2 linked regions of the Homo sapiens genome follow. The protein of the gene in region 2 purifies or fractionates together with the protein of the main gene of each other region. This does not show direct contact. Each region holds a gene or a part of one and is shown on either strand. Other genes may lie near its edges.

Region 1 (3,600 bases), on a different chromosome or scaffold from region 2:
TTGAGTATTTTAAGTGAAATTCACTGTATATCGCCAAAAACAGTGGCAATCCCTACAGAGAATAAGCCTTTTAAAATATGAAACAGCACATGTGGAAAAAAGAAAAAACGTGAAACACTTATTTTCAAACAACTTAGTCTTTGAACCTTGAGGGCTGTTTCAAAATTTGTGAAGCATAAACACTAGGGAAGATCCGAAAGGTTTTAAAAATTATCTGCCAACTTCTCTGCACCTGTTAACCAAATTATGAACACCCATTTAAGCAATCAAAAAAAGCTCATATGATTCCAACTTTGCAAGATGTTTATATAGTAAGCTACACACAAAATTCTGCATTACTATAAAAAAGACAACCAACACTGGTGAACGAAAATCTTCGCAAGGGAAAGCGTTTTCTCTTAGTGTAGAGTTGCCAGATACAGTGTTGCCAAGCTTCAACACGATCAGAAACATGTAGCAAAAAGATGTTTAAAAAGAAAAACAAAAAAAGCACAGCAAAACGTTCTTCAAAGTGTGAAAGGTCCAAGAACTTTCTTAGCTCCAAGCAAAGTTTCATGCCTGCTTTACAGATGGGTGAACTAAGGCAGCAGATCGGATTAATCAGTGTCTTTCTCAAGGTCACTCTAGTGCAAAAGAACAGCACACTCCGGACTCCCTATCTCAGGTCCTCGACCTCTCCACACTCCAGGGCGGCACAGCTCAAACACGCTTGGCTCTCCTCGTACCCAAAATGCCACCAGGCACTCAGAGAAAGGAAACATTTCAAGCGCTCTCCGGGGAGCTCCCGCAAGACTGGGGTACCTGGGGCCCGTCCTCCCCCGAGGTGGCCGCCCTCCCCAGCCGTCCCTCTGTTCTCGTGGAGCGAGCGCCATGCCCCGCAAGAACCAGGGAGGCGGCCCAGGGCCGTGGGGGCTGCGAGGGTCCCGCCGCGCGGGGCTTCACTTACCGTCGCTCTCAGCCCTGACAAGCAGGGACATGCCCTTCAGCCGCTCCACGTAGCCAGACGACACATGCCCGGTGCCCCGGTCGTCCCACTGCCGGTCCTCGTTGAGCGTGTACACCTTCACCCGCCGCCGGGTGTCGGTCATCGTGCCGCCCGGGAACCGGGGCGGGGGCCCCGCCAGTAGACGCCCAGGAAAGGGGCCCTGGAGAGGCGAGGGGCGAGGCGTGAGGGCGCCCGCGAGCGGAGGGCTCCCCGGCCTCACTGCCGCCGCTGGGCGCCGCGGGGCCGCGCCGCCGCCTGCATGGCCCGCTCCAGGGACCGAGCTCTGGGCCGCCGCCTTTCCTCGCCTCCGGCTCCCCGGCGCTATTGTCCAGGCCTGGCGAGCCCGGCGCCCGGCAGCCCCGAGGGGGCCGCGCAGCGCTTCGTAGCCTCCCGCCCCGCAGCGCTAGGAACTCGGGGCTCCCGTCACTGCCCTGCTCCCGCCTCCGCCATGATCTCCGCGAAGCAGCTTCCCGCGCCGCCGCCGCCTCCTCAGGCCGCCGCCGCCGCCGCCATATTTTCCTTCCTTATACCTGGCCCTGCCACCGCGGCCAGTGGCTCCCTTCCGCTCCCCCTGTTTTAAACGTCAGAAGCCGACAGGCGCCTGATCCTGCTGCAACTGCTACCACTGCCCGGGAGACTCTGAGGGCCCCCGGCCGCCCAAGCGACCCGGACTAGTGGAAGTCGGTTTCCCTCCGCCGCCGTCTCTTCCGTCTTCCTCACACAGCCAAAACCGCCGCCATCTTGGTTCGCCCCTCAAAAGCGGCGCGCGGGGCCACCCAGGGAGCAGCTGCAGGGGCGGCTCGTAGCCCCACCATTTAAAGAGACAGCAGCGAGACCGGGAGCCTTACTGCGGCGGAGGCTTCCGACGGAGGCGGGAGGCGGGCGCGGAGTTGCCGAGGTGGCGGGAGCGCAGGGAGCGGAGGAGGCGGGACGCAGATTGCGCCGGTGACAGCCCGAGGCTCCCTCCCGCCTCCTTGCACGCACCGTCGTGCGAGCGCTGGGCGGTGTGTGCGTCCGTCGCGCCCTGTGTTCGTCATCAGCCCCGCTCCAGGATGCACGAGGGGCGTGGATACGTTTGCGGCCTCTGCCCGCGGGCCCCGGCGCTTCGGCCTCGCCTCCGCCCGCCGCCACCTTCCCTTGTTCCTGCCCCGTCCCTGCCTCTGCCCCTGCCCCTGGCCTGCGGACGCCGGGCAGCGTGGGCCTGGGCCCCTACCCGCTTCCGAGAGCGTTTTCCCGGGGCCGCCTTTATGGCTGAGTCGGGCGCTCGGGACCCACCCGGCGCCTTGCGGACTTGAGGGAATGAAATGGAAACGCTTCCGGGGAAGGTCGCGGGTGTGGGCGCCTAGGTCGGCGCAGCCTTGGGAGCCGCCGTGGGTCGCGGACTGGCGTGGCCAGTGTGGAAACTTGGGACTGTTTGCGATTTCTGGGCGTGGGACCGAGTTCCAAGTGACAATTCTAAAACTTCACCTTACAGCCTAGGCAAGCCCCAAGTGCTCCATTCCTTCATCCCTATCAGAACTGTCTGCCAGCCTTTCTTGTCGGAAAAGGAACTTAAGGCGCTCACAAAAACAAATGCGACACTGTGTAATCGGGAGGAGTAATTCTCAGCATTAGGTAGTCCTGTGTTTTGAAGACCTACTTGATGTCAAGTATTGTTGATCTTCACAAAGGAATATCATTCTCGTTCCTATCATGCAGCTCATATGCCACCATTTTGGTGGCTTTTACCATTTGCCAGGCCTTGCCAGGTCGGGCTTGTCCGCTCGGAATATAATGCAGCCACACACATAACTTTAAATTTTGCAGTAGCCACAAAAAGTACGAAGAAACTGGTGAAATTAGTGTTAACGTTTTAGTGCGGTATTTTCAAAAGTTATTTCAATAATCAAATTACTAATGAGATATACGTACAATGTCTTAAAAATGTGATATATTTTGTCCTTCCAGCAAGTCTCTGTTGGGATACTAAATTTTCATCAGAAATATCTACGTTTAGATTTTATTGAAAAAAAATTTTTTTTGAGACAGGGTCTCTCTGTCACCCATCCTGAAGTGCAGTGGCTCAGTCTCAGCTCACTGCAGCTTCAACCTCCTGGGCTGAAGCGATTCTCCCATCTCAGCCTCCCAAGTAGCTGGGACCACAGGTGCGCAGCACCACTGCCAGTTAATTAATTAAATTTGTTATTATTTTTTTTTTTCGGTAGAGACGGGTTTCACTGTTGCCCGGGCTGGTAGAGTTTATTAAATTTACAGTTGAAAATGTAGATTCACATATTCTGTTATTCCAATCATACTTAAAAGTTTTCCAAAAGCTGAATCAAGTATCAGTTTTTAAATTTAGCTGGGCGCGGTGGCTCACGTGGTCAAGGAGTTCAAGACCAGCCTGGCCAACATAGTGAAACCCCGTCTTCACCAAAAATACAAAAAAATTAGCCGGTCATGGTGGTGTGCGCCTGTAGTCCCAGTTACTCGGGAAGCTGAGGCAGGAGAATCCTTGAACCCGGGAGGCGGAGGTTGCAGTAAGCTGAGATTGTGCCACTGCATTCCAGCCTGGGCAACAAAGCGAGACTCTGTCTCAAAAAATAAAATAAAATAACAATTTAAATTTAAAAATT
Region 2 (3,949 bases):
GTCTTGCGAACTAAGTATTCCTGTTGTCTGTGTGCCAGCTGGCCTGGCATTTGGTCTAGGAGTCTTTCAGATACACAGTCAGTCCAGACTGAGGCTGAATTTATTTTTCCTAGTGAAACCTGAGTCCCCACACTCCCCATCTACTAGGGCTGCAGCTATTATAGCAAGGGCCTGAGCTCTCCATCTGCTCCCCAGACACCTGCTGGAACTAATTATCATTATTATTAAAACTTTAAAAAAATTTTTTTCTATTATGTTGCCTTTTTTCCTTTCCTTTTTCTTTTTTCACTTTTTTTTTTTTTGGAACTGATTATTTTGGAAACAGCAAAGAACAACATACTTCACAATCTAATCCAAAAACATAAGCCCCTTTGGTCTTCCATGCTGCTCTTTTCCATTTTGTTTGTACACTTGTTTTCCCTTCATCAGCTCTCCTATTTCTCCTCACCTATCCTAAACATGTGTACTTTGCTCTTCAGAACATTGGTTTGTGGTTAGCCAGTTATCCACTATTATATTAGCTTCCATATACTCTGTTAGCTTGCATGTCTTCATGTAATATTTCTTCTGTCCCCTAATCTTAACTTGATTCAGCTGCATCTTTCAGTCGTTGCTGCCTTTTTTTTGGACATACCTCAGGTACTTTGCGGGTAGGAGGTTGGGCAGTCTGGTCAGTGTTCTCTTTCATTTTCGTTGGTACCTCCAGACCACTCTTCTTCCATTCTTTCATTTAACACCAAACACCAAACAAAAACAGCCTAACAAAATGATTCTGTTTCTTTGAGGCTTATGCCTTTTAACTTTCTAATCTTTTTTGCTATAAATTTTTTCTCATTCTTTGAAGACTTTGGTTCTTGGATTTGATCTTCATTTTCACCCCAAGTCTTCTTATTATCCATTTGGTAGCATAGCTTCCCAGACTGTAATGTCTTCAACATCAGTCCATCTGGACTTTATATGTGGTGTGAAATAGAACTCCATTCTTGATTTGCTGATGGGAAATCAGTGATGATAACCTAACCATTTGAAGAATGACAGGTTGTTAAGTGTATGAATTCCCCCATATGTTGATTGAGTTTAAGAAGATAAGAGATAATTGAAAATCTTATGGCTGTGTTTAAAAATATTTTAATTTTATAGTCATAAATGAGAAGAAAAGTTATACCTGATATTGTGGTACCTGGCTATATCATGATATTGATTCAAAGAGAGGGATTAGCTGTTTTGCTAACAGGTATGGTAGAAAGAGCACTGGATAATTTAAAGTCTGGCAAATGGCAAATCACTTAATGTTTTTCACTGCTTTTTTCTATTTTGAAGTGGAGAGAATACCTAATCCATATAGTTATTGAGCTAGTAAAGTACATTTATATATGTGTATATGTGTATTTTGTAAACTTTGAAAGGCTTCAATGTTTAAGATCTCATAAAAATTAGAGAACCATTCTCTGTTAGGATGGATTCATAAGGTTACTCCTGAATATCACATTATCTCCATAAAAAACTTAGAATTCCCTATACTCTGTGTTTTCTATAGGAAATGAAAAAAGTTAAAAAAATTATTATTTGTGGACTAGGCGTGGTGGCTCATCGCTGTAATCGCAGCACTTTGGGAGGCTGAGGTGGGCAGATCACTTGAGGCCAGGAGTTCGCGACCAACATAGTGAAACCCCATCTCTACTAAAAAAAAGAAAGAAAAAACAAACAAATTAGCTGGGCATGGTGGCACACACCTGTAATTCCAGCTACTCTGGAGGCTGAGGCACAAGAATTGCTTGAACCTGGGAGGCGGAGGTTGCAGTGAGCCAAGGTTGTGCCACTGTACTCCATCCAGCCTGGGCAACAGAGGAAGACTCTGTCTCCAAAAAAAAAAAAAAAATTATTATTTGTGATACTTTAATCTACATGATAAAGAGACTCCAGTGAACATTAGTCTACAGATGTTTAAGGTCTATGGAAAACCAGTATGTTATTTCTCATGACCCTGTTCTTGATATTATACTGTAAATATTAGCTTTTTAATGTTTCATTTACAGGTACATGATGTTGATTGATGGCACAAATGAAGTTTTTATGATTGATAGAGACAATTCAGTATTTCATGTTTCAAATCTGGAATTTCCATTTCGTAAAGATCTTCGTATGCATTTATCAAATACTCTCTTGGATGGCGTAAGTCATATTTATGTATACTATAAAATTAAACATTGCCATTTTTCTTTTCCTTGTAAGTAAATGTGTATTTCTGTTGGTTAAGAAATTTCGAATGAAATCTAACTTTTTTTTTTTTTTTTTTGAGACGGAGTCTCGCTCTGTCGCCCAGGCTGGAGTGCAGTGGCGGGATCTCGGTTCACTGCAACCTTTGCCTCCTGGGTTCAAGTGATTCTCCTGCCTTAGCCTCCCCAGTAGCTGGGATTACAGGCATGTGCCACCACGCCCGGCTAATTTTTGGATTTTTAGTAGAGAAGGTGTTTCACATGTTGGTCAGGCTGGTCTTGAACTCCTGACCTCGTGATCCACCCGCCTCAGCCTCCCAGAGTGCTGGGATTACAGGCATGAGCCACTGCGCCCAGCCAAATCTAACTTTTATTAGGATGTTAAATTTCATTTATTTCTTATGTATACTTATATTGAATTAAGGTCCTCTTAAAGAGAGATCTGCCAACTGAATCTTTGAGCATAAGTAAGACTTTGAGATATTTTCTTTGGTGGAGAAATTTGTTAAAGATATGTAAAGGGTGTTAAATGAGTGCTCTGGTCAAATATGTATACATATGGATAGTTATATAATTTTGCATGAAGAGAAACATATGTTACATGTGGTTAGTAACTTGTCTTTTTCCCCACACTTAGCAATGTGTTTTGGACATCTTTTTCACATAAATGTCTGAATGGTTTACCATTGTGTATATAGAGACCATAAATTGGGGTTTCCAAACTATCTTGACTGTGAAAATTGTAGGGTTAAAAAATTGCTTGTTTAAAATATGACCCTTTCCAATAGCATATCCTAGACCATATGAATTGGAATCTCCCAGGGGCCTACATGTCCGTACAAGTGACCAAGTGATTGTAATTAGGCAAGTTTGAGAAATAGTTCTGTAATTTATTTAACCAGTTCCCTTTTGTTGGACATTTTGATTTTTGTATTTTTTCCTGTATCTAGTAAATTTTCATTCCTGTGACAGCATGAGTAACAAAATACCACTTTCTAATAAAAATGATATATATATACATATGTACATGTATATGTATCTATATGTGTATAGATTTAACTATCATAGTTAATGTGACTGGTACCCTTGGGGTTGTATAGTACATAAAAGTCATAGTCATTTGTGGCAGCTCTGGTAGTTGGTTCATGGGAACAGCAGGAACATTTTAGTTTTTGTTATCTTTATTTAAGGTACTTTTTTTAGCATTATAATTAATAAAATATAAGAAAGGAAAAGACTTAAGTAATAGCATTTGTCAAAGTTTAGTATAGTTTATAATTGAACTAATGTTTGTTGAGTGCCTATTATGAGTTGCTATACCAAGAGTACGGGTATTGCTTAGAGGGTTGAGGAGAAGGCCTCACCCTTGAAACATTTTGCTTAATTGAGCAGGGTGGAGAATGAATGGTAATGATGGAAGAGACCTTTGAATAAAACAATAACCCAAAGAGAGGTATTTAAGTCCTGAGGTAGTTTAGAGGAGAAATAAATCACATCTAGTTAGTTAGGAACTAAATATGTTTTGTGTAGGAGTTGGCATTAGAAACAGAAAGATTTCTATAGAAAGATTTTTGATGGACGTGGGCTGAGGGCATTCTAGGTAGGAAATAATGCTTAAAAATTAGATATTTAACCATCTACAGATTTAACTTAGCAATACTATTTATTTCACCTCAAACTTGGATAACTGAGAGCGGCATAATAGATTCTTGTGAAGTTTTAAAAATAGCAGT

Evidence for each region. The genes of interacting proteins can lie anywhere in the genome.
Region 1: the proteins of RNGTT (region 2) and PPP4R3A purify together in Homo sapiens (affinity purification with mass spectrometry; 3 studies listed by BioGRID and IntAct, with this or other methods). This does not show direct contact.

Annotation. Positions count from the first base shown.
Region 1 is NC_000014.9:91,508,560-91,512,159, forward strand, and holds the start of PPP4R3A (serine/threonine-protein phosphatase 4 regulatory subunit 3A), read right to left. Parts: upstream 1,752-3,600; 5' UTR 1,089-1,751; coding exon 947-1,088; intron 1-946. UniProt on the Homo sapiens protein: Regulatory subunit of serine/threonine-protein phosphatase 4. May regulate the activity of PPP4C at centrosomal microtubule organizing centers.
Region 2 is NC_000006.12:88,851,852-88,855,800, reverse strand, and holds part of RNGTT (mRNA-capping enzyme), read left to right. Parts: intron 1-2,036; coding exon 2,037-2,172; intron 2,173-3,949.